Regions from separate parts of the Homo sapiens genome. Here region 1 is linked to region 2. The links come from fine-mapping of genetic effects on gene expression. A gene starts in region 2. The other region holds a variant in brackets. All regions are shown on one strand. Distances are from middle to middle. Region 1 overlaps ULK1 (unc-51 like autophagy activating kinase 1). Region 2 holds the start of ULK1 (unc-51 like autophagy activating kinase 1).

Region 1 (9,597 bases), 32 kb after region 2:
GGCTGCAGCTTTGCCGACCCCATTACTGCGAACCTGGAGGGGGCTGTGACCTTCGAGGCCCCCGACCTCCCTGAGGAGACCCTCATGGAGGTGAGGGCTGGAGTGAGCAAAGGTTCCCATTCTGGCTGGAGGGTGTGTGGGGTGTGTGGGGTGTCGGGTGTGTGGGGTATAGGGTGTGTGGGGTGTCGGGTGTGGGGTGTCGGGGGTGTGGGGTGTAGTGTGTGGGGTGTAGAGTGTGTGGGGTGTGGGGTGTCGGGTGTGTGGGGTGTCGGGTGTGTGGGGTGTCGGGTGTGTGGGGTGTAGGGTGTGGGGTGTAGGGTGTGTGGGGTGCAGGGTGTGTGGGGTGCAGGGTGTGTGGGGTGCAGGGTGTGGGGTGCAGGGTGTGTGGGGTGTCGGGTGTGTGGGGTGCAGGGTGTGTGGGGTGTCGGCTGTGTGGGGTGTACGGTGTGTGGGGTGCAGGGTGTGTGGGGTGTCGGGCGTGGCACATCCCAGCTGCCCGGGCTGCAGCAGGGGAGGGTACCCTGCCCTGCCTCCCCAAGGCGTCATCGGTGAGTCTGAAGGGAGACAAGCCCCTTCCAAGCCCGGGCAGCACTTGCCGCCCTGACGGCCGCTTCCTGCAGCAAGAGCACACGGAGATCCTGCGTGGCCTGCGCTTCACGCTGCTGTTCGTGCAGCACGTCCTGGAGATCGCAGCCCTGAAGGGCAGCGCCAGTGAGGCGGCGGGGGGCCCTGAGTACCAGCTGCAGGAGAGTGTGGTGGCCGACCAGATCAGCCTGCTGAGCCGAGAATGGGGGTGGGTGCCGCCAGGGCTGGGGTGGGGCGGGTGGTGGCCTGGGGGCCAGGACCAACCGGCCTCCTCTGATCTGCCTGCCGCCCCCAGCTTCGCGGAACAGCTGGTGCTGTACCTGAAGGTGGCCGAGCTACTGTCCTCCGGCCTGCAAAGTGCCATCGACCAGATCCGGGCCGGCAAGCTCTGCCTGTCGTCCACTGTGAAGCAGGGTGAGGGCTGCGACCGCTCAGCCCACATGCCGGGTTGGGGAGGAAGCCCACCTTGCAACTGCCTGGGTGACAGGGTAACAGGGAGGCTGCTTGAGTAGGCCCCTGTGCAGAGGTGCAGAGGCCCCGGGGCCTGGCCCAGTGTGCAGAGCACAGAGGCCATTGGGTCGGACAGCACCCTGGAGCCCAGTATGCAGAGCACAGAGGCCGTGGGGTCGGATGGCACCCGGGACAAGGTGCGGAGCCTGGCCACACCCTCAAGGCCACGGGGAGCCAGGGCTGTGGCAGGGAGGGAGGGACGTGCTCGCTCAGTGCACCGGGCAGATCATGGCCACTCCAGCCCTGCCCCGTGTCTGCTGCACCCTGAGCTGACCACCCTCGTCCTTTGCAGTGGTGCGCAGGCTGAATGAGCTGTACAAGGCCAGCGTGGTGTCCTGCCAGGGCCTGAGCCTGCGGCTGCAGCGCTTCTTCCTGGACAAGCAGCGGCTCCTGGACCGCATTCACAGCATCACTGCCGAGAGGCTCATCTTCAGCCACGCTGTGCAGATGGTACGGGACAGACAGACACCAGTGGGGCAGGGGCCAGGAACTTCCAGGCCCGCCGTCTCCACTGGGACGGGACCTTGATGCCCACAGCGTGGTGAGACTTTGGGGGGTGTCACTTCTGGAGGTCTTGAAATGACAGCATTATGCACCCCCAGCCTCCTGCAGGCGCTCGCAGCTCGGCTGGGTGCATCCTTGATTGTACGGGTGCCGTGGCCCATGTGCATCCTGCCTCGCCCCGACTCAGTTTCCCCAATTGTAAAATGAGAGACTTGGTCTTCAGGCCTCGTAGTCAGGTGTCAGCCTCCAGAAGCAGCACCTGGTCCCGGACAACCTGCCTGGAAGTGTGGTGCACTCAGGTGGTACCACGGGCAAAGACTCCCTGCTTGGGCTCTGAAGAGCTCCCTCTGCCTCTGAGGTGGTGCCCCCTTTTCGTTTATTTTTTGTTGTTTTTTTTTAAGAGAGGGTCTTGCACTGTTGCCCAGGCTGAAGTGTAGTGTAGCCGCTAACTCCTGGGCTGAAATGATCCTCTTGCCTCAGCTTCCCAAGATGCTGGGTATTACAGGCAAAAACTCATGAGTGCCTGAGTCTCCTTTTTTAAGAAAATTTAAGCATGTAGTAAAAATCCAGTCTGAACAAACATGGGAAAAGTCAGCCTCCCTCCTGCCCCCCTTCCCGCCCAGGCAGGCCAGGCAGCAGCAGTAATGACACTGACTGAGCGGCGGGCACTCTGTTGTCCTGGGGCCGGGCTGAGAGCGCTGGCCAGGGTCATCTGGTTCCAGGCAGTGTCTCCCCTTGGCCCTGTGACCATCCCCTCTGCACAGCAGGCTGCACCAGCACTTATGTCTCCACGTCACTGCCCTGAGCGCCTATCTGCCACCCCTGGGCCGCTGCCGTGGGTGCAGGGCAGCCCTTGCTGGGAGGGAGTGGGGTGAGCTGGCCCTGTCCAGCCTCTGTCCTCGCCCCCAGGTGCAGTCGGCTGCCCTGGACGAGATGTTCCAGCACCGTGAGGGCTGCGTCCCACGCTACCACAAGGCCCTGCTGCTCCTGGAGGGGCTGCAGCACATGCTCTCGGACCAGGCCGACATCGAGAACGTCACCAAGTGTGAGTGCCCGGCTGGGCTGGGGGCTGGGGACTCTGGGCGTCTCCCTCACACTCCCCTCTCCCTCCACAGGCAAGCTGTGCATTGAGCGGAGACTCTCGGCGCTGCTGACTGGCATCTGTGCCTGACCTTTCTGGCCTGGCTGGGCCCCCCGTCCTGCCGAGCCCTGCAGAGTGGGCTCTGTGTGCTGGCTGGACTCCTCGGGACAAGCCCATGGCGCTGATCGCTGGTGCTGAGCCCTGCCCTGGGCCCCACGGACAGTCAGCCTGCCGGCCTCCCTGCAGCTCACGGGGCAGAACCAGCACATCTGGAGCCACACAGCTTGGGGGGTGTCTCCCATCTTTTACAGGTGGGGATCACAGAATTTCTGCCCCTCCAGCTGCCTGGCTCAGCAGGCGTGGGTGCCACCACCCTCTAGCCCCAGGGCAGCCCCGGAGGACAGGCAAGGGCCTGAGACCACTGCCGACTCAAAGCCAAAGCGAGCTCCTGCTTAGGGAAGGTCAGCAGGCACTGTGCCCAGGAAGAGCCTGCGGCCTCGGCGTCCCCCAGTCTCCAGGAGCCTCTCCCTCCGAGATACCCACCCAGCTTTGTCAATCACCCAAGCACTTTATGCATATAGAGACAGAACCTGGACCTCACCAGGGACTGCTGGGCAGCGATTCCTGGCAGTGGCCTGGTGTTTGTACATACACATATGCAGACACATGCCAGGGCCCCCCAAGCCCGAGCACCGGACCACGTTGCTGCCCAGGTCTGGACCTCAGCGGGAGAACTGGCTCCGGGGGGAGTGGGGCCCTGCGCTAGAGGCAGAGGCAGTTCTTTGTTCAAGCGTTCCTCTGGGGACCGGCAGCAGAGGCACCGTGTTCTCTCAGCCCTGGATACGTCTT[G/C]TAATCTTTCACACTTTATTCCTAAAACGTGTCTTATTTTTATGCAGCTCATTTTTTCTTTAAAGGAGAAAACTTGTAGGTGTTTAAGAATTGGTTTTGGGAGGGCGAGGACTGGGCCAGGTTAGAGGCAGATGGCACAGGGGCGTGTGGCGGGCGGGTGAGGCTGCTTTGCACACCTGTGTTGGTGGCTGTCCCCTGCCGCCCCTCCCTGTGGCAGCAGCAGGACAGGTGTGTGCCCAGCACCCTCCCTACCTGGGCCTGGAAGCAGATGAGGGGAATACTTCATGCAAAGAAAAAAGTAACATGTGCAAAAGCTCCCCGTCCAGCTTTGACAGTCAGTTTTGATGTCAGCTCCTCGGCAGGGTAGGCCTGATGACAGCCCTGTCCCTCCCTGCCTCTGCCTTGCCCAAGGCCACGGAGGGCATCTGCAGAGAGGCCTGCCTTCCGGATTCCAGGCGGGCATGCCCTGCAAACCCCGCCTGGGCCTCCCTTGGTCTGCCCAGCCCTCGATTAGCCCTGCCTGAATCAGTAGATACTTGAACGAGTCCCCAGTCTGCGGGAGGCAGTGGTGGGGCCATGGACCCATGCGGGGGGTTCCAGGGTCACACGCCACATAACAGACAAAAATACACACACGTGTGTTTTTCTTTGCAATACTTGAAATATTGCCACTGTGCTTGGACTTAGAAGAAGAAAATCCCCGTGACTTCTTCCTCATCACCTTGATGGCTTTATTCTCACCTTGTGGGGCATGTTTGTATTTATTGCTTCATGGCCGACTGGAATCCTGAGTCCTGGGAAGCTGGCACTGCGGGGATCTTGCCCGGTGTCCTGGTCCTCTTGCTTCCGTCGCGGCCGCATGTGCGTGTGTCCAAGCAGGTCCTGGGCGCCTCAACTGCTGCCCCTGGTTGAATGTTCTCTTGATAGTGCTGGACCCTTTGTCTATTTTAAAGCGAATTTTGTGTGATTTCCTGCCCTTTGCGTTATATTGTATAATACCAACGTAAGGAAATAAACCTTTGGAATTGTTGGGCTGGTGTCACCACTTGTCTTCGTTGGCTTGTCACTGTTTTCAGGGTTCTGTCATTTTCTTTCTCAGCCGAGGCGCAGGAGCCCAGGGCCCCTCCACAGGTGCCCACAATGGTCGACACAGCCCTGGGAGCAGAGCCCCAGGGCAGAAGCTGGATGTGTTGAGGGACAATGCAAACCCCTGCGCCACAGGAAGCCTCTCCCGCCAGGCTGGGGGTCCTGCACAGGGTGAAGAGAGTCCAGAGGGCAGGGCATCTGCCTTGGTATAGCTTTGGGCACCTGCTTTGACTCCTTTGGGGGATACACCTAGGAGGGGCTTTCGGGGCCACGTGGAGCTGTGTGTTAACTTCCAAGAAGCAACACGGTTCGTTCACTGCAGCCTCTGAGCAGCTGGGCCTCCAAGGCCTTGCCGTGTGGTTTTGATTTGCATTTCCCCGAGGGGTCATGACGTGGAGCATCACAGGTACTTGGCGGCCATTTGTGTGTCTTTGGAGGAACATCTAAATCCTTTGCCTCCCCCTTTTTATTTATTTATTTATTTTTTAATTTGAAATGAGTAACTCTGTTGCTCAGGCCGGAGTGCAGTGGCGCGATCTCGGCTCACTGAAACCTCTGCCTCCCAGGTTCAAGAGATTCTCCTGCCTCAGCCTCCCAAGTAGCTGGGACTACAGCCACCAAGCCCGGCTAATTTTTGTTTTTGTTTTGTTTTGTTTTTAGTAGAGACGGGGTTTCACCGTATTAGCCAGGATAGTTTCAATCTGATGTTGTGGTCTGCCTGCCTTGACCTTCCAAAGTGCTGGGATTACAGGCATGAGCCAGCGCACCTGGCTGTTTTTTTTTTTTTTTTTTTTTGGAGACAGTCTCCCTCTGTCACCCAGGCTGGAGTGTAGTGGTGCAATCTTGGCTCACTGCAATCTCTGCCTCCCGGGTTCAAGCGATTCTCCAGGCTCCCGAGTAGCTGGGATTATAGGCCAAGTGCCACCACGCCCAACTAGTTTTTGTATTTTTAGTAGAGACGGAGTTTCACCATGTTGTCCAGGATGGTCTCAATATGACCCCGTGATCCACCTGCCTGCCTCATCCTCCCAAAGTGCTGGGATTACAGGCGTGAGCCACCACGCCCCAACTTTTTTTTTTTTTTTTTTTTTTAGTTGAAATCTCACTCTGTAGCCCAGACTGGAGTGCAGTGCTGCAATCTGGGCTCACCGCAACGTCCGCCTCCCAGGTTCAAGCAATTCTTCTGCCTCAGCCTCCCGAATAGCTGGGACTACGGGCATGCGCCCAGCTAGTTTTTTGTATTTTTAGTAGAGACGGGGTTTCACATGTTGGCCAGGCTGGTCTCGAACTCCTGTAGAGTTCGCATTTTTAAAACTATATATTGTTTTTATTAGATAAAAATAACTTGCTAAAAACTGCTAACCGCAGTAAGAAGTGAAAGTTCATTGAGAGGTTGGTGTTCTCGAGGAAGGGGAAGGCGGAGACCTTGATTTCTGAGTCCCAAGAGGGGCTGCTTCCAAACTGAGCCTCCTCAGACAGGAACAGCTGCACTCGGCACCGAGTGAGAAGGTGTGGTGGAGCAGCTGCCAGGCTGTGGGCGCCGTGATCCTCCTGGTACTTCTGAAACGTAAAGAAATGCCCAGACGGTCACTACAAACATGGAATTTTGTTGGTGTTAATATCATTTTTTAGAGCAGTTTTATATCTGTAGGAAAATTGAGTAGGACGTACAGAGAGATCTGCCCTCTCCCCTGTCAGTAACACGTCACATTCGTGCAGTGCCTTTGTCTCTGCTTTTGAACCCAATATTCATATTTTAGATTTTTAAAAATCATGGACACTTCTAATACTACAGGTTCTGTCATAGTACCCGAAGTCCATAGTTCACATCATGGGGTCACTCGATGTACACTGGGCTTTGCAGAAGTGTCACGCCACACATCACCCTAAGGTCCTCTGGGCTCCACCTGTTGCCCTCTCCCAGCCTAGCTCTGCTGGCCCCGGTCTTCCTGTCCTCGTAGTTTTTCTTGTTTCAGAATGTCCCGTAGTTGGAATCATACACTATGCCCAGGGCTTGGGAGCTCATTTCCTTTTTTTTTTTGAGACGGAGTCTCGCTCTGTCGCCCAGGCTGGAGTGCAGTGGCGCGATCTCCGCTCACTGCAAGCTCCGCCTCCCGGGTTCACGCCAGTCTCCTGCCTCAGCCTCCCGAGTAGCTGGGACTACAGGGGCCTGCCACCACATCCTGCTAATTTTTTTTTTGTATTTTTAGTAGAGACGGGGTTTCACCATGTTAGCCAGGATGGTCTTGATCTCCTGACCTCGTGATCCGCAGGCCTCGGCCTCCCAAAGTGCTGGGATTACAGGCGTGAGCCACTACGCCTGGCCTTTTTTTTTTTTTTTTTTTTTTTTTTTGAGACAGTCTCGCTATGTTGTCCGGGCTGGAGTGCAGTGGCGGGAACTCGGCTCACTGCAACCTCCACCTCCCAAGGTTCAAGCGACTTTTGTGCCCCAGTCTCCTGAGTAGCTGGGATTACAGGCGTGAGCCACTGCACCCAGCCTGGCTAATTTTTGTATTTTTATTTATTTATTTATTTATTATTATTTTTTATTGATCATTCTTGGGTGTTTCTCACAGAGGGGGATTTGGCAGGGTCACAGGACAATAGTGGAGGGAAGGTCAGCGGATAAACAAGTGAACAAAGGTCTCTGGTTTTCCTAGGCAGAGGACCCTGCGGCCTTCTGCAGTGTTTGTGTCCCTGGGTACTTGAGATTAGGGAGTGGTGATGACTCTTAACGAGCATGCTGCCTTCAAGCATCTGTTTAACAAAGCACATCTTGCACCGCCCTTAATCCATTTAACCCTGAGTGGACACAGCACATGTTTCAGAGAGCACAGGGTTGGGGGTAAGGTCACAGATCAACAGGATCCCAAGGCAGAAGAATTTTTCTTAGTACAGAACAAAATGAAAAGTCTCCCATGTCTACCTCTTTCTACACAGACACGGCAACCATCTGATTTCTCAATCTTTTCCCCACCTTCCCCCCTTTGTATTCCACAAAACCGCCATTGTCATCATGGCCCGTTCTCAATGAGCTGTTGGGTACACCTCCCAGACGGGGTGGTGGCCGGGCAGAGGGGGCTCCTCACTTCCCAGTAGGGGCGGCCGGGCAGAGGCGCCCCTCACCTCCCTGACGGGGTGGCTGGCCTGGTGGGGGCTGACCCCCACCTCCCTCCAGGACGGGGTGGCTGCCGGGCGGAGACGCTCCTCACTTCCCAGACGGGGCGGTTGGCAGGCAGAGGGGCTCCTCACTTCTCAGACGGGGCAGCCGGGCAGAGACGCTCCTCGCATCCCAGACGGGGCGGCAGGGCAGAGGTGCTCCCCACATCTCAGACGATGGGCGGCCGGGCAGAGACGCTCCTCACTTTCCAGACTGGGCAGCCAGGCAGAGGGGCTCCTCACATCCCAGACGATGGGCGGCCAGGCAGAGAAGCTCCTCACTTCCCAGACGGGGTGGCGGCCGGGCAGAGGCTGCAATCTCAGCACTTTGGGGGGGCCAAGGCAGGCGGGTGGGAGGTGGAGGTTGTAGCGAGCCGAGATCACGCCACTGCACTCCAGCCTGGGCACCATTGAGCACTGAGTGAACGAGACTCCCGTCTGCAATCCCGGCGCCTCGGGAGGCGGAGGCTGGCGGATCACTCGCGGTTAGGAGCTGGAGACCAGCCCCGCCAACACAGCGAAACCCCATCTCCACCAAAAAAATAGGAAAACCAGTCAGGCGTGGCGGCGCGCGCCTGCAATCGCAGGCACTCGGCAGGCTGAGGCAGGAGAATCAGGCAGGGAGGTTGCAGTGAGCCGAGATGGCAGCAGTACCGTCCAGCTTCCGCTCGGCATCAGAGGGAGACCGTGGAAAGAGAGGGAGAGGGAGACCGTGGGGAGAGCGAGAGCGAGAGGGGGAGGGGGAGGGAGAGCGAGAGCGAGAGCGAGAGCGAGAGGGAGAGGGAGAGAGATTTTTGTATTTTTAGAGACGGGTTTTGCCACGCTGGCCAGGCTGGTCTCAAACTCCTGGCCTTAAGTGATCCGCCCTCCTGGCCTCCCAAAGCGTTAGGATTACGGGCATGAGCCACTGTGCCTGGCCTCATTTCTTTTTAGAGCTGCATAGTATTCCATTGTCTGTAGGTACCACAGTTTTTCCATTCACCTGCCGACATATCGGTTGTTTCTGCGTTTGGGCAGTGGTAAATAAAGCTGCTGTAAAGGTCCTTGTGCCAGAGCCAGGTGGTGAGGGTGGGCCCAGGGGAAGCCATGGCAGTACAGGAAGGACCTCATCCCTGCACACACTGGCCATGTGGGGGCGGGGCTCCAAGCCAGGGGGACCAGGCCTTGGTGCCCACACTGCCACAGAACTGTGGCCCCCCTGGGTGCCTGTCCAAACCCCCCCGCCTCAGTCCTGGAGCCTGGGCTGGTGGAGGGGTGCCCTCCTGGGGGGTCACTTATACAGCTGAGCCACCCTCCCAGCTGGACAATTGCATCTCCCTCCTGCCTCCCCTTCCTGCCTCGGCCACCAGCTCCTCACAAGCCACTCGCAGCCCACTGAGTGCCCCTTGGGAAGGGGTGTCAGATTGGATCCCTGGGGCTCCCATCTCACTCATAGCCAATGCCAAGTCCTCGGTGGCCCACGAGGCCCCACACAACCTGGCCCCGGACCCCTTGGTCCTCTTTTCCTATCAGTCCCTCCAGTCATCACGCAGCCCTGTGGTTTCTCTACCTGCATACTCCAGGTGGGCACAGTGCCCCGGCCCCACTGAGTCCTCACCTGTAGGAGAAGGCACAGCCCCTGGAGGGCGGGAGTGGGGCTGCTGCAGACGGCTGTCTCCTGCCTCCTGGCTCTTGCACTGCCAGGAACACGCTCTCCCCAACACCTCCATGGCTCATTCCCCAAATTCAAGCTTGTAGTTGGTTGAATTGTGGCCCCAGAGATGGGATTAAGGATTTTGAGATTATGCCAGATTATCTGCGCGGGCCCAGGATCATATGAGTTT
Region 2 (15,988 bases):
CCCGCTTCCTGTCCCAAGCTGCTTCCATTCCACAGCCCAGCCCCAGAGAGCTGCAGAAGTCAGAGTTCTGATCTCCTGAAAAAATCTTTGTCCTCCACTAGGGCGCTTTAGGTAGATCTCGGAGCCACCAGGCTGGATCCTAGGGCCTCCAGCCTCTTTGTTTAAAAAAAAGGAGGGGTGGGCATGTTAGAGAAGGAAGTGGAGGAAGGGAAGCTTGGCAGCCCACCCTCACTCCTGGGGGTGCCGGAGGGGCATGAGGGAGCCACCAGGCAGGGTGGGCCTCACCCTTGGCCCTGGAGCAGGCTCCTAGCAGTGGGAGTGGGGACAGCCTGGGGCGCTTGAGGGAGGTCCTGGGCAGCTTCGGTCCTGGGTGCTCTCTGGGCCCCACCCATGTGCCCTGAGGCTCAGAAAATCTTTTGGTTGTTTTTATGCTGCTAGACAGACTCTGACCTCACACTAGGAATCCTACTCCTAGGTATTTATACAAATCACATTTGGGAAATGTTCTTAGCAGCTTCACGCATAAATAGCCCAAAGCTAGAACCAGAGAAGTCTGTGAAGAGGCAAATCAATTTTCCATCCTCCAAGGATGTAGGCTGCTCACTGGAGGTACCTAAGGATGGGCCTCCACTCAGCCACGGGAAAGAATGGATCCCGCTCAGCCACAGGAAAGGATGGATCCCTCTCAGCCACATGAAAGGATGGCCCTCACTCAGCCATGGAAAAGGATGGCCCCCACTCAGCCACGAGAGAGGATGGACGCCCGCTCACCCACGGGAGAGGATGGACCCCCACTCAGCCACGGGAAGGATGGATCCTGCTCAGCCATGGGACAGGATGTCCCCTCACTCCGCCACAGGAAAGGATGGCCCCTCACTCTGCCACGGGAAAGGATGGCCCTCCAGCCACAGAAAGGATGACCCCCACTCAGTCACAGGAAAGGATGGATCCCCCTATTCAGCCACGGGAGAGGATGCCCCCCCACCGACTCAGCCATGGGAAAGGAAGGCCCTCCATTCAGCCACAGAAAGGATGACCCCCACTCAGCCACGGCAAAGGATGGACCTCCATTCAGCCACAGAAAGGATGACCCCCACTCAGCCACGGCAAAGGATGGCCCTCCATTCAGCCACAGAAAGGATGACCCCCACTCAGCCACGGGAAAGGATGGCCCCCCACTCAGCCACGGGAAAGGATGGATCCCACTCAGCCAAGGGAGAGGATGGCCCCCCCACTCAGTCACGGGAAAGGATGGATCTCGCTCAGCCACGGGAAACAGCCAGAGGGATGAGTGCACATGGGCCCAAACCAAGACGCAAACGAAGAGACCCGGCTGCAGAGTCCACTTCTGTGGGATTCTAGAAGATGCAAACTCATTGATAGCCTTGAAATCAGATCACTTTTGGCCTGGGGTGGGGTTTGAATGGGAAAGAGCGGGAGATAACTTTTGGGCGATAGAAATGCTCTGTGTTGATTGGGAGTGGATAAATGGGTTTGTACGTTTGTCAAAACTCACTGAACTGAACTCTTAGAATGTGAACCTTTAATTGTATGTGGATTATACCCCCCGATAAAGTTGATTTTTTTTTTTTTTTGGAGACAGACTCTAGCTCTGTTGCCAGGCTGGAGTTCAGTGGCACAATCTCGGAGCACTGCAACTTCCACCTCCCAGGTTCAAGCAATTCTCCTGCCTCAGCCTCCCTAGTGGCTGGGATTACAGGCATATGCTACCATGCCCAGCTAATTTTTTGTATTTTTAGTAGAGAGGGGGTTTCACCGTGTTAGTCAGGATGGTCTCGATCTCCTGACCTCGTGATACACCTGCTTCAGCCTCGCAAAGTGCTGGGATTACAGGTGTGAGCCACCCGCATCCTGCAAGGGAGTAGAGTTTTTAAGGATAACTTGGTTGGTGGGGGGAAGCCAGTGAGCCAGGATGCTGATTGGTCAGAGATGAAATCATAGCAAGTCAAAGCTGTCTTTCCTCTTGCACTGAGTCAGTTCCTGGGTGGGGGCCACAAGATCTGACGAGCCTGTTTATCCATCTGGGTGGTGCCAGCTGATCCATCAAGTGCAGGGTCTGCAAAATATCTCAAGCGCTGATCTTAGGAGCAGTTTAGGGAGGGTCAGAATCTTGTAGCCTCCAGCTGCATGGCTCCTAAACCGTAATTTCTAATCCTGTGGCTAATGTTAGGCAAGAAGGAGGTTTGCTTTGGGAAAGGGCTGTTACCGTCTTTGTTTAAACTGTAAACTACAAGCTAAGTTTCTCCCAAAGTTAGTTCAGCCTACGCCCAGGAATGAACAAAGACAGCTTGGAGGTTAGAAGGAAGATGGAGTCGGTTAAGTTAGATCTTTCACTGTCTCAGTCATAATTTTACAAAGGCGATGTCAGTAGCACTAAAGAAGGCAGAAACAACCAATAAACGCAGACCATGGCTTCAGGAAAACTTTATTTACAAAAGCAGGCAGTTAACATTCAGAATACATAACCAACTCCCACAACTCAACAGCAAAAAATCAAGCCACCAGATTACAAAATGGGCAAAGCACTTGAATAGGCATTTCTCCAAAGGAGATACACAAGTGGCCAGTAAGCACCTGCAAATGTTGACAAAAAGAGTCAAAATCTGTAAAATATTTGAAGAGATTTATTCTGAGCCAAACATGAGTGACCCTGACCTGTGACACAGCCTCAGGGGGTCCCGGGAACACATGCCCAAGGTGGTCGGGGCGCAGCTTGGTTTTATACATTTTAGGGAGACAGGAGACATCAATCAAATACATTAAAGAAAGACACTGTTTGGTCCAGAAGGGCGAGACAACTCAAAGGGGTGGTGGGCAGGCCTCCAGGCTATAGGTAAATTTAAACATTTTCTGGTTGACAATTGGTTGAGTTTGTCTAAAAACCTGGGATCCATAGAAAGGAAATGTTCAGGTTAAGAGAAAAGATTGTGGAGGCTAAAGTTTCTTTGAGGTCTTACAATGGCTGCCCTTAGAGAGACAGTAAGTGACAAATAATTCCTATGCTAGACTTTAAGTTAATCTCTTTAGGATTGGGAGGGCCTGAAAGAAAAAGATCTAGCTATGTTAATAGAGATTCTTCACAGATGCAAATTTTTCCCCACAAAGGAGGGCTTTGCAAAGCCTTCAAAATATGGCTAACCAGGCCGGGCGCGGTGGCTCACGCCTGCAATCCCAGCACTTTGGGAGGCCAAGGCGGGTGGATCACGAGGTCAGGAGATCGAGACCATCCTAGCTAACACAGTGAAACCCCGTCTCTACTAAAAAATACAAAAAAATTAGCCGGGCGTGGTGGCGGGCACCTGTAGTCCCAGCTACGTGGGAGGCTGAGGCAGGAGAATGGCGTGAACCCGGGAGGTGGAGCTTGCAGTGAGCCGAGATCGCGCCACTGCACTCCAGCCTGGGCGACAGAGCGAGACTCCGTCTCAAAAAAAAAAAAAAAAAAAAAAATACAAAAAATTAGCCAGGTGTGGTGGCAGGCGCCTGTAGTCCCGGCTACTGGGGAGGCTGAGGAGGAGAATGGTGTGAACCCGGGAGGCGGAGCTTGCAGTGAGCTGAGATCGCGCCACTGCACTCCAGCCTGGGTGACAGAGGGAGACTCCATCTCAAAAAAAAAAAAAAAATTAGCCAGGCATGGTGGCAGGTACCTATAGTCCCAGCTACTCAGGAGGCTGAGGCAGGAGAATGGCGTGAACCTGGGAGGCGGAGCTTGCAGTGAGCCGAGATCGCGCCACTGCACTGCAGCCTGGGCAACAGAGCGAGACTCAGTCTCAAAAAAAAAAAAAAAAAGGCTACCAGCGCAGTGGCTCACACCTGTAATCCCAGCACTTTGGGAGGCCAAGGTGGCAGATCACCTGAGGTCAGGAGTTCGAGACCAGCCTGGCCAACATGGAGAAACCCCCTCTCTACTAAAAATACACAAACTGGGTGGGGCGTGGTGGCTCATGCCTGTAATCCCAGCCCTTTGGGAGGCTGAGGCAGGTGGATCACCTGAGGTTGAGAGTTCGAGACCAGCCTGACCAACATGGAGAAACCCTGTCTCTACTAACAATACAAAAATTAGCTGGGTGTGGTGGCAGGTGCCTGTAATCCCAGCTACTTGGGAGGCTGAGGCAGGAGAATCACTTGAACCTGGGAGGCAGAAGTTGCAGTGAGCTGAGATTGTGCCACTCCACTCCAGCCTGAGTGACAGAGAGAGACTCTGTCTAAAAAAAAAAAAATTAAGTCACAATATATAGGATTAAATAAAACCCATCTGATGAGAATTTATGGTTTGTAGGGCATGACTCTCTAGACCCCTTAGATAAGAATTTGGGCAAGATAAAAAATATGAGTTTAGTCCTCACAAAGATGTTCAACATCACTAGTGGTTAGAGAAATGCAAATCAAAACCACAGTCAGGCCGGGTTCAGTGGCTCACGCCTGTAATCCTAGCACTTTGGGAGGCTAAGGCGGGTGGATCACTTGAGGTCAGGAGGATCACTGAGACCAGCCTGGCCAACATTGTGAAACCCCATCTCTACTAAAAATAAAAAATGTAGGCTGGGCACGGTGGCTCATGCCTGTAATCCCAGCACTTTGGGAGGCCAAGGTAGGCAGACTGCCTGAGCTCAGGAGTTCAACACCAGCCTAGGCAACACAGTGAAACCCCGTCTCTACTAAAATACAAAAAAGATTCGCCGGGTGTGGCGGCCTGTGCCTGTAATCCCAGGTACTCAGGAGGCTGAGGCAGGAGAATTGCTTGAACCCGGGAGGCAGAGGTTGCAGTGAGCCGAGATTGTGCCACTGCACTCCAGCCTGGGTGACAGAGCGAGACTCAGTCTCTAAAAAAAACCCAAAACCAAACAAAAATTAGCTCCAGGCGTGGTGGCTCATGCCTGTAATCCCAGCACTTTGGGAGGCCGAGGCAGGCAGATTGCAAGGTCAAGAGATAGAGACCATGGTGGCCAACATGGTGAAACCCCATTTCTACTAAAAATACAAAAATTAGCGGGGCGTGGTGGTGCACACCTATAGTACCAGCTACTCGGGAAGCTGAGGCAGGAGAATTGCTTGAACCCGAGAGGCAGAGGTTGCAATGAGCTGAGATCACTTCATTGCACTCCAGCCTGGGCAACAAGAGCAAAGCTCTGTCTCAAAAAAAAAAAGAAAAAAAAAAATTTAGCCGGGCATGGCGTGCACCTGTAATCCCAGCTACTCAGGAGGCTGAGGCAGGAGAATCACTTGAACCTGGGAGGCAGAGGTTGCAGTGAGCTGAGATTGTGCCACTGCACTTCAGCCTTGGCGACAAGACCACAACTCTGTCTCAAAAAAAAAAACACACACAATGAGATATCAGTTCACACCCATGGGTACTGTTGAAAGCAACTAAGGGAAAAGAACAAGTGTTGGCTGTGGAGAAAGGGAACGCGTGGGTGCTGCTGTTGGGAAGGTAACATGGTGTGGACCTTGTGGAAAATGGTGTGGAGGTTCCTGAAGAAATTAAATAACATTCCCTACAATCCAGCAATTCCACTCCTGGGTATATATTCCAAAGAAGTGAAGGTAGGGACCCAAACAGTTATCTGTGTACCCACATTCGCAGCAGCATGATTCGCGGTAGTCAAAGGTGGAAATAACCATGCGTCCATCCATGGGTAAATGGACAAAGAAAATGTCCAGCTCAAGGAGGCTCACGCCTGGAATCCTAGCACTTTGGAAGGCTGAGGCAGGTGGATTGCTTGAACCCAGGAGTTGGAGACCAGCCTGGGCAACACAGTGAGACCTTGTTTCTACAAAATATGAAAAAATTAGCTGGGTGTGAAGGCGCGTCCCAGGTACTTGGGAGGCTGAGAGGTGGGAGGTTCACCTGAGCCCAGGAGGCGGAGGTTGCAGCGAGCTGTGCTCCTGCCACTGCACTCCAGCCTGGGCTACAGAGTGACATCCTGTCTCAAAAAAAAGAAAAAGAAAAAGGAGAAAGAGAATGTGGTCTATCCATACAATGGGTATCATCCTGCCTTGAAAAGGAAGAATGTTCTGACACACAGGACCGTAAAGGCCACAGCTCAGCCCTGGAAGGACTGTGGAAAAATGAACTCGCAAAAAGCAGGTGAGAAGGAGTGTGCATGTTTATGGAACATGTGCATTCAGGGAGAATCACAGAGCGACTGCCCACACCCTCAGGGAGGTCAGAAGCAAAGCAGGTTATGGGAGGTGGGGAGAAGGGCAGCTCTGTTGAGGGGATACACCGGGAGAATGAATGTGTCTGGGAAGAGAGAGTAACTCCTAGATGGTTCTCTCTGAAGGAAAAGGGTTAACTCGTAGGTGGTTCTCTGAGGGAAAGGATCTGTTCAGGTGTAGCCACATTCTTGCTCTTCCAGGGAGGGGAAGGAATAAACAATTGTTCTCCTTGGCGGGTCCGGATCTTAGGCAGATAAAGAAGCTTTGACTTTGGGAGAAGTGGGGGGAGGCTGGAGAGACCTTGAGCGTTTCTTTCTTCAGTTCAGCGTGTGAAGGTGCCCTATTTTGGGATATCAATTACTGAGCCCCAACATTACAACATAGATGAACCTGGAGAACATCATACTCAGTGAAAGAAGCCAGTCACAAAAGCGCAAATACTATAGGATTCTACTTATATGAGGTTTTCAGAGGAGTCAAACCCACAGAGACAAAAGCAGAAGAGAGGGCCAGCCTCCATGGCTCACGCCTGTAATCCCAGCACTTTGGGAGGCCAAGGCGGGCGGATCACCTGAGCTCAGGAGTTTGAGACCAGCCTGGCCAACATAGCGAGACCCCATCTCTACTAAAAATACAAAAATTAGCCGGGTGTGATGGCACACACCTGTAATCCCAGCTACTTGGGACGCTGAGGCAGGAGAATTGCTTGAACCCGGGAGTCGGAGGTTGCAGTGAGCCAAGATCATGCCACTGCACTCCAGCCTGGGTGACAGAGCAAGACTCTGTCTCAAAAAACAAAAACAAAAACAAAAAACAAACAAAAAAGAAAGTAGAAGAGTGGGTGCCAGGGGCTGAAGGAGGGGAATGAGGAATGAGTCTTTAACGGGGACAGAGTTTGTTTTGGAAGCTGAATGAGTTCTGGAGCTGGATGGTGGTGACGGTTATACAACAATTTTTTTTTTTTTTGAGACAGAGTCTCGCTCTGTCACCCAGGCTGGAGTGCAGTGGCGCGATCTTGGCTCACTGCAAGCTCCACCTCCCGGGTTCATGCCATTCTCCTGCCTCAGCCTCCTGAGTAGCTGGGACTACAGGTGTCCGCCACCACGCCCGGCTAATTTTTTGTATTTTTAGTAGAGACAGGGTTTCACTGTGTTAGCCAGGATGGTCTCCATCTCCTGACCTAGTGATCCGCCCGTCTCGGCCTCCCAAAGTGTTGGGATTAGAGGCGTGAGCCACCACGCCCCGCCTCAACAATGTTTTTATAGAGACAGGGTTTCACCATGTTGCCCAGGCTGGTCTCCAACTCCTGGGCTCAAGCAATTCTCCTGCCTCGGCATCCCAAAGTGCTGGGATTACAGGCGTTTGCCACTACGGCCGGCCCACAACAATGTGATTGTACTTAATGTCACTGAACTGTGCACTTAAAAATGGTTAAGATGGGCCGGGCGCGGTGGCTCACGCCTGCAGTCCCAGCACTTTGGGAGGCCGAGGCAGGTGGATCATGAGGTCAGGTGTTCAAGACCAGCCTGACCAACATGGTGAAACCCCATCTCTACTAAAAATACAAAAATTAGCCAGGTGTGGTGGCGTGTGCCTGTAATCCCAGCTACTTGGGAGGCTGAGGCAGGAGAATCACTTGAACCAGGGAGGTGGAGGTTGCAATGAGCCGAGATCGCGCCATGGCACTCCAGCCTGGGTGAAAAGAGCGAAACTCTGCCTCAAAAAAAACAAAACAAAAAAAAACAAAAACAAACACATTCTGAGGCTGGGTGTGGTGGCTTATGTCTGTTGTTTAATTTTATTTATTTATTTATTTATTTATTTTGAGATGGAGTTTCACTCTTGTCTCCCAGGCTGGAGTGCAATGGTGCGATCTCGGCTCACCGCAACCTCCGCCTCCCGGGTTCAAGCGATTCTCCTGCCTCAGCCTCCCGAGTAGCTGGGATTACAGGCATGCACCACAACACCCGGCTAATTTTGTATTTTTAGTAGAGACAAGGTTTCTCCATGTTGGCCAAGGCTGGTCTCGAACTCCTGACCTCAGGTGATCAGCCCGCCTCGGCCTCCCAAAGTGTTGGGATTACAGGCGTAAGCCACCACGCTGGGCCGATGGCTTACGTCTATAATCCTAACACTTTGGGAGGCCGAGGCGGGAGGATCACTTGGGCCCAGGAGTTTGAGACTAGCCTGGGCAACATAGTGAGATCTCATCTCTACAAAAAATACAAAAATTAGTAGGGTGTGGTGGCGTGCACCTGTAATCCCAGCTGCTTGGGAGGGTGAGGCAGGAGGATCACCTAAACCCAGGTAGTCAAGGCTGCAGTGAGTGGCGATTGAGCCACTGCACTCCAGCCTGGGTGACAGAGTGAGACCCTGTCTCAAAAAAAAGAAACTGTGGTACATATACACCATGAAATACTACACAGCCATAAAAAAGAATGAGATCATGTCCTCTGCAGCAACATGGATGGAGTTGGAGGCCATCATCCTAAGCGAACTAACACAGGAACAGAAAACCAAACACTACATGTTCTCACTTATAAGTGGGAGGTAAACACTGAAAATATACGGGCCGGGCGCTGTGGCTCACACCTATAATCCCAGCACTTTGGGAGGCCGAGGTGGGCAGATCACGAGGTCAGGAGATCGAGACCATCCTGGCTAACACGGTGAAACCTCATCTCTACTAAAAATACAAAAAATTAGCCAGGTGTGGTGGCGGGCGCCTGTAGTTCCAGCTAATCGGGAGGCTGAGGCAGGAGAAAGGCGTGAACCTGGGAGGCGGAGCTTGCAGTGAGCCAAGATAGCGCCACTGCACTCCAGCCTGGGCGAAAGAGCGAGACTCCGTCTCAAAAAAAAAAAAAAGAAAATAGGACACAAAGAAGGGAACAAGAGACACCAGGTCCCACTTGAGGGTGGGAGGGTGGGAGGAGGGAGAGAGGATCAAAAAACTACTTATCGGGTACTCTGCTTATTACCTGGGTGATGAAATAATCCGTTCATCAAACCCTGTGAAACATAATTTACCTGTATAACAAACCTGTCCACACACCACTGAACCTAAAAGTTATAAAAAGAATAAAAAATTTAATAAGACCGCACAAAACAAAAAAGAAACATGTCCTTCCTCGGTGGGCCTAGTAACGGTTTCCAAATGCAAATCCCATCTTGCCATCCCACCCTCTCCTAAACTCTTCCTGGGTATTTCTTTGAGTTTGGGGTGAAGACCCCGTTAGCTTGGCTTTCCAGGCCAGGGTGGGCTGGGCTGGGGTTCCCTGAGTACTTTCCAGGAGTACAGGCTTCGCCATCTCTAGCAATCTCGGCCCTCACGGTCTGCCCTGATCACCTCAGCACGTAGCCACCTGTTCACTCATTTTTCTCTTGCAATTTTGCCACGGGTGGTGCAATCTTTGCTCTTCTTGTCCCCCACCCCTAAGCGCTGGGAGCTCCTGCAGGCGGGTCTTGTTCTCACTGTGTCAACTGCAGCACTTACCTCGCAGCGTGTGCTCTCTGGGCAGGCCGGTGTGCAGCAGGCACTCCAGGATGTGAGTGAATGCTATGGCTGACTACGGGGCACTGTGGAACCTCTTTATTGGGAAAACAAACATGGTGGGCCAGGAGACCTCTTGTCCCTTCCAGCTCGGTGGCTTCTGGCCCCCAGTCCAGGGTCGGGAGTCTGTGTGTCCTGCGGCCTGGAGGATGAGCTGGGTGCAGGTAAAAGGCATCCAGGACTTGCTGATCCAGCCCAGGGCATCAGGCTGTCCAGCTGCTGGGCTGCTCTGGGAGGCAGCATGGAGGGTCCTGGCTGAAGTGTGTGTTTCTGGGCTGTTACTTTAGGACTGTACTGAAGGCTGGGTTGGTGAGCATTGTTTAGAATCATGCATTTGCAAAAGCAGTGCTTGCACGTGGTGAAAGCCATTCCAACTAGCGCGCAACGTGTACGGTGAACAGCACTAACTTTTCCCCGGTCCTCTCTCCCAGAGCAATCGCTGTTGGCTGTGTCTTCTGTGAGTGAGCCCCCGGGCTCTTTTGGCTGCCGGCGGTGTGACTTTGGACACATTCTCCAACTTTTCTCCGCCTTGATTTCCTCATCTGTAAAACAGGGACATAACAGCAAGTGCCTCGTGGAATCATTGAATGGATGCACTAATCGCTGGAAAGTGCGCTGCTTGGCCTAAGTGATGAGTTAGCTGTCATTATAGTTAGGAACGACCATGTACACATTACAGGCGTTTCACACACACACACATCCCAATCCTACCGCTTTCTTAAAACGACAGACAGTACAGTGCCCTGTTCCATATTTTGCTTTTACTTAATTATAATCTTTGGAGAACTCACCCTTGAGCACAGGTATATTTACCTCTGTGCAGTGTTCCACAGGACCGATGCGCAGCCCATCTAGCTAACCTTTCCTCCCCAGCGGATTTATGGGCTATGTCGTTGGTTTGGGTGACAACTTTTTGGTCTACAATTTTTTTTTTTTTTTTTGCAATTTGGCATTATGGAACTCAACTTTAAATGCCTAACCTCTAACTCAGCCATTCTATTTCTAAGAATTAATTCTGCGCAGTCCCCCGTTTTGGGAACATTTCCCACGCCTGTTCTCCATTCTCCTGTAGAAGGGGAACAGGGAGCGGGAAGGAGGGGAACAGGGAAGGGGAGGGAGGGGAACAGGGAGGGGGGACAGGAGGGAGGAGAACAGGCAGTGGGGGCGGGAGGGGAGCGGGGGGGAAGGCATGGGAGGGGGCGGAAGGGAGGGGGCAGGGAGGGAGAGAGGTGATGGGAAGGGGAAAAGGAGGGAGGAGGACGGAGAGAGGGGAAAGGAGGGAGGGGAGCAGAGAAGAAGCGGGGCGGGGAAGGGGCGGGGAAGGGGCGTGGAAGGGAGTGGGGCAAGGAATCAACACTGAGCCCCGTGGCCCGCTCCCGGGTCAGCGCGCCTCTCTGCTCTCACCGGGGCGGGTCCGCTGTTGGCCCCACCCACTCCCAGCCCACCCGGCCCCGCAATGGCCCGGCCCAGCCGCCCACCCCCCCGACAGGCCCCGCCCCATTCCCCGCCCCCCGTCTGTTCGTCACGCCCGGCTCTGCCGCTCCGTCCCGCAGGCCCCGCCCTCATCCCGCCTCCCGGCCCGGCGCGCAGTGCGGCTGCGCGGGCGTCTCAGGCTCTGAGGCCCGGGCGCCGCGGCTCTTTTGTTTCTCCGTTGGGGCCGAGCCCGGGCCCTAGTTGGAGCCGGAGTCGGAGTCGGAGTCGGATCCGGATTCGGATTAGCAGCCCGGGAAGAGTGCCGTGGCACAGGCGCCGGAGGGAGCGCGACCCTCGGACCCCGCCTGGCCCGCGGGGCTGGGACCCGGCCCCGGCCTGCCCGATGGGGCGCGCGGCCCCGGAGATGCGCCCTCGCCCGGCCCCGCGCCCCCGGCCCCGCGCCCCCGGCCCGCCCGCCCCGGCCCGCGCCTCCGCCTGAGTCCCCCGCGCCTTGGCCCGCCACCCCCCGCCCCGCGCCCCCGGCCCGCCTGCGCCATGGAGCCCGGCCGCGGCGGCACAGAGACCGTGGGCAAGTTCGAGTTCTCCCGCAAGGACCTGATCGGCCACGGCGCCTTCGCGGTGGTCTTCAAGGGCCGCCACCGCGAGGTGAGGCCCCCGTCCGGCCCGGGATCCCCCGCCCAGGATCCCCTGCCCCTGCATCCCCGCCCCGAGATTCCCCGCCTGTCCCGGGACCCCCCCACGCCTCCCGAGAGCCCCACTCGACTTTCCAGGCCGACCCCCACCCCAGGATCCCCACCCCGCGACCCCCAGCCCGACTTTCCAGTTCAGACTCCCGCCCCGAGATCCGCTGCCGGGCTTTCCAGCCCAGATCCTCACTCCGAGACCCCCAGCCCGACTTTCCTGTCCAAACCCTCACCCCGGGACACCCCGCAACCTGGTCCCACAGCCGGCTTTCGAGGCTGGATCCCTACCCCAGGACCCCCAGCGCGATCCTCAACCTGGCTCCCCACTCGGCCTTCCAGTCCCGGGATTCCCAACCGGGATCATCTCAGGGCCCCACCTGTGTGGACTGGGGTCTGGGGGAGGCCTGCGAGGGGCAGCCCTGGCCTTGAAGGTGCACGTTTGGCTTTCAGAAGCACGATTTGGAGGTCGCCGTCAAGTGCATTAACAAGAAGAACCTCGCCAAGTCTCAGACGCTGCTGGGGAAGGAAATCAAAATCCTGAAGGTGAGCCAGTGCTGGGGGAGGGGGCGTGGGCGTGGGCGTGGGCAAGCCCCCCTCCCCACACTGATAACAAACTTGGGTTTCTGTCCTAGGAACTGAAACATGAAAACATCGTGGCCCTGTACGACTTCCAGGTAAGGCCTCTGGGCTGCGGTCTGCTGGGGACCGGGCTGGGGGACTGTGGCCCCAGGTGCTGGATCCCCTGGTGAGCACTGGTGTTGAGCCTGTCCAGGCTGGGGTCTACTGGGCCCCTGGAGACTCCACCCTGGGTCCAGGCCTGGGCTGGTGCTGGCTCTTGCTGTGACTTCCCCAGCTGTGAGACCGGGGAGGGGGTGTCTGGGCCGCAGGGCGCCCCAGGGCAGGGCTGAGTTCTCCTGAACAGGCATCCCCTCCCCGCCGGGCGTCAGTCCTAGGGGCCCTGCCTGAGTCCGGCGTCCCCGGCTGGCCCTGGCAGCACTGCCGGCCTGGCCCACCTGTCTAGGCCGTGTGTTTGTTGACATTGCTCCTGCGGCCGGCATTGGCCGGCCTCGCTCTGCGTCAGACGGGGCGGGGGAGGGGCCGCCGGAGACTCCTGCTCGCTGGCAGTCAGGGCCGGGCCGGGGCACAGGCGGCTGCCGCTGGCTGGCCAAGGAGATGACCTCGGGCCCGGCTGGCCCCAAGAAGCAAGCGGTGGGACCAGCTGGCTTTCGTGCTGCCTCCGTGTCCCGGGGCCCAGGGCAGGCAGGGCTGGGGCTGTGGGAGCCAGGGTGCCGTCCTGGGGACCAGGAACCTGAGGCGGGAGATCCGCCCCGCCAAAGTGCTGACTAATGGCTCTGTGACCTGTTTACTGAGCCCAGGGCCCAGCCCCTGGCTGAGGGAAGGGCTGGCAGGCCGTGTTTTGGTGGCCTCCTCCGTCCGCCTCTCAGAGCTTTGCTGTGGCCTTGGGGACCGAGGCTTGTCACAAGGTGCCGGGTGGGGGGGGCCCAGGTCCAGCGAGTACCTGGAAACCCAGGCACACTGTGTCCTGGAGCTGGGCCATCCCTCCTGCTGCTTTTCCCGCCCTCTTCCCACCCCTTTTCTCCCTGCTTTCCTCCCTCCCTTCCTCCTCTTTCCTCATCCTCTCCATGTTTGGAAGCCTCCTGCCTGGACCACAGCCTGCACATGCGTCATGGCTCTGGGAGCCAGCAAGGAGTGGACAGCTGTCCCTGGCCAGGCAGCGACTCTGAGGGACTCCCCCTCCACCCTGGGCTACACTGCCTGCTGCTCCCCTCCAGGGCTCCCCAGGTCCAGTCCTGGGCATCTCCAGGCCAGGCCCTGTGACTGTCCGCACGACCCCCGCAGACCCGGGACCAGTATCCCCAGGCCCAGCTCCATCCCAGTCAGCCACACACACCTGGTTGTGGGCATCTGCCACTTCCTCCAGTGTTGGCAACTCTGCGGCTTTCTCTACTCAGGAAGCACTTGGAGCCGCCAGCTGCAGGCGCTCCTGTCTCCGGGCACCGGGCTCTGCTGGAGCTGCAGCTTAGCCTGCCCTCGCCCCCACAGGCGTGGGGATTGTTGCCCTGTGTCGGTAAGGCAATGTTTGAGGCAGGCACCCAAACCCAGGAAAAAATAACTGGGTTTTAAAAATGGACAATGAACGATTTGGGTGATAAAAGAAAATCCTCAAACATTACGGGAGGGAGTGCGGTCGAGGCTAGAGTCCTGCCCCCGATCGAGTCCCGCTGCCCTCCGTTCTCAGGCCCCTGCTTTAGTTGTTTCCGGGCCACCGGGGACAGCCATCCTTACAAGGCGATGTGTTCACCGGTGTCCTTCCCCGCCACACCCACCTCTCTGCGCCGTGAATTTTGTCACTTAAGAGTATAGTTTGCACTCCATCCAGCCTGGGCGACTGAGCGAGGCCCTGTCTCTAAAAGAGTAGAGCTTGGGGAAGGTTCTGTGCTGGCTCAATCCATATCAGAAAGTTTACCCCTCGGCCAGGCACAGTGGATCACACCTGTGACCCTAGCACTGTGGGAGGCCAAGACAGACCAGCCTGGGCAACATAGCAAGACTCGCTCTCTCTAAAAAAAAGAAAAAAAAAGAAAAAAAATTAGCCAGGCATAGTGGCATGTCTCAGCTACTATAAAGGTTGTAGGAGGATTGATTAAACCCAGGAGTTTAAGGCTGCAGTGAGCCGTGATGTTGCCACCGCGTTCCAGCCTGGGCAGCAGAGTGTAACCCTGTCTCAAAAACACAAAACAAAACCCTCAAAAAGTTTACCCCTCTCTGTTAGAGGTCACCATCTGTAAGCACAGTGGTCGAGAGCCAGGCTGACGCTGATGAGGGGCCCAGTCCTGGCTGCCATATGTGCACACACAGCTTCTTTAGTTTGCGGTCCTATTTCTTCCTCTGTGAAGCAGAAAGCACGGGCTGTGAGGGCTGTGTGAGGGAGGAGGGAGTGCTCTCGGGTTGGAGGAGCCATCGTGGAGGTGCTAGCTGCTGGCCTGATTGGGTCTGCCGTGGTGATTTTCAGCCATGGCGTGCCTGTTGCCCGAGATTCCATAACTGATTTCACCAAGGCCCTGTAGGTGGGACATGAGGTTATTTTGGGATGCTGGTACATCAGGGTGGTTGTGACTGGATCCTTAGAAGTAGAATCCTTGGGTAGGAGGGATGCTGGTTTTTAATTTGGGTAGCTATTGCCAAATGGACCTCCGGAGAGGCAATGCCACTGGTCTCTCAGCCTGTCTCCAAGCATGTGTCTCCCTAGGTCCTTGCCAGGAGGGTGGCTCTCAGAGGTTTCCATCGTGGCTCATGTGAGAAGTAGAAAATGACATCTCTTATGGTTTTGCTTTTCTTTTTTTTTTGAGACTGAGTTTTGCTCTTGTCGCCCAGGCTGGAGTGCAGTGACACAATCTCCCCTCACTGCAACCTCCGCCTCCTGGGTCCAAGCGATCCTCCTGCCTCAGCCTCCCGAGTAGCTGGGATTACAGGCGCCTGCCACCACGCTAGGCTAATTTTTGTATTTGCAGTAGAGACACGGTTTCACCATGTTGGCCAGCCTGGTCTCGAACTGACCTCATGATCCACCCACCTCGGCCTCCCAAAGTGGTGGGATTGCAGGAGTGAACCACCATGCCTGGGCGGTTTTCTTTTACATTGGTGATGAATGAGCTTCCCTATCCGAGCATGGGAATGTTAGAAATACCACCTGTCCTTTGTATAGTGTATTTCTTTTTTTTTTTGAGATGGAGCTTCTCTTTGTCACCCAGGCTGGAGTGCAGTGGCGCGATCTTGGCTCACTGCAACCTCCACCTCCCTGGTTCAAGCGATTCTCCTGCCTCAGCCTCCCGAGTAGCTGGGATTACAGGCACCTGCCACCACGCCCGGCTAATTTTTGTATTAAAAAATTTATACAATTTTCGCCACATTGGCCAGGCTGATCTTGAACGCCGGACCTCACCTTCGACCTCCCAAAGTGCTGGGATTACAGGCATGAGCCACCATGCCCAGCCTGCCTGATATATTTCTATATTTTATATATACGTTTTTCTGAGATGTAGTTTCACTCTTGTTGCCCAGGCTGGAGTGCAGTGGCACCATCTCGACTCACTGCAATCTCCGCCTCCCGGGTTCAAGCGAT

Evidence for each region.
Region 1: its variant is fine-mapped to the expression of ULK1 in whole blood (TOPMed, PIP 0.98).

The regions. Positions count from the first base shown.
Region 1 is chr12:131,918,592-131,928,188 of GRCh38, forward strand. It overlaps ULK1 (unc-51 like autophagy activating kinase 1), which reads left to right. Exons shown (of 28, transcript NM_003565.4): 23 at 1-90; 24 at 621-793; 25 at 881-999; 26 at 1,388-1,545; 27 at 2,509-2,644; 28 at 2,715-4,559. The coding sequence ends at 2,770. PUS1-AS1 (PUS1 antisense RNA 1) reads right to left here. Exons shown (of 2, transcript XR_001749414.2): 1 at 9,372-9,597; 2 at 5,921-6,175. Among named protein-coding and RNA genes, the nearest start is that of PUS1-AS1, 5.0 kb to the right of the region's middle. RefSeq lists enhancers at 5,033-5,112, 5,523-5,582, 5,743-6,062, 6,164-7,040. The variant G/C (reference allele first, on the strand shown) is at 3,530.
Region 2 is chr12:131,883,307-131,899,294 of GRCh38, forward strand. ULK1 (unc-51 like autophagy activating kinase 1) reads left to right here and starts at 11,316. Exons shown (of 28, transcript NM_003565.4): 1 at 11,316-11,806; 2 at 12,295-12,387; 3 at 12,477-12,518. The coding sequence starts at 11,696. It overlaps LOC124903059 (a long non-coding RNA gene), which reads right to left and starts at 10,852. Exons shown (of 2, transcript XR_007063538.1): 1 at 10,541-10,852; 2 at 9,752-10,269. RefSeq lists silencers at 10,986-11,035, 11,066-11,575, 12,643-12,792, 12,718-13,012, 12,983-13,042 and 1 more and an enhancer at 13,500-14,297.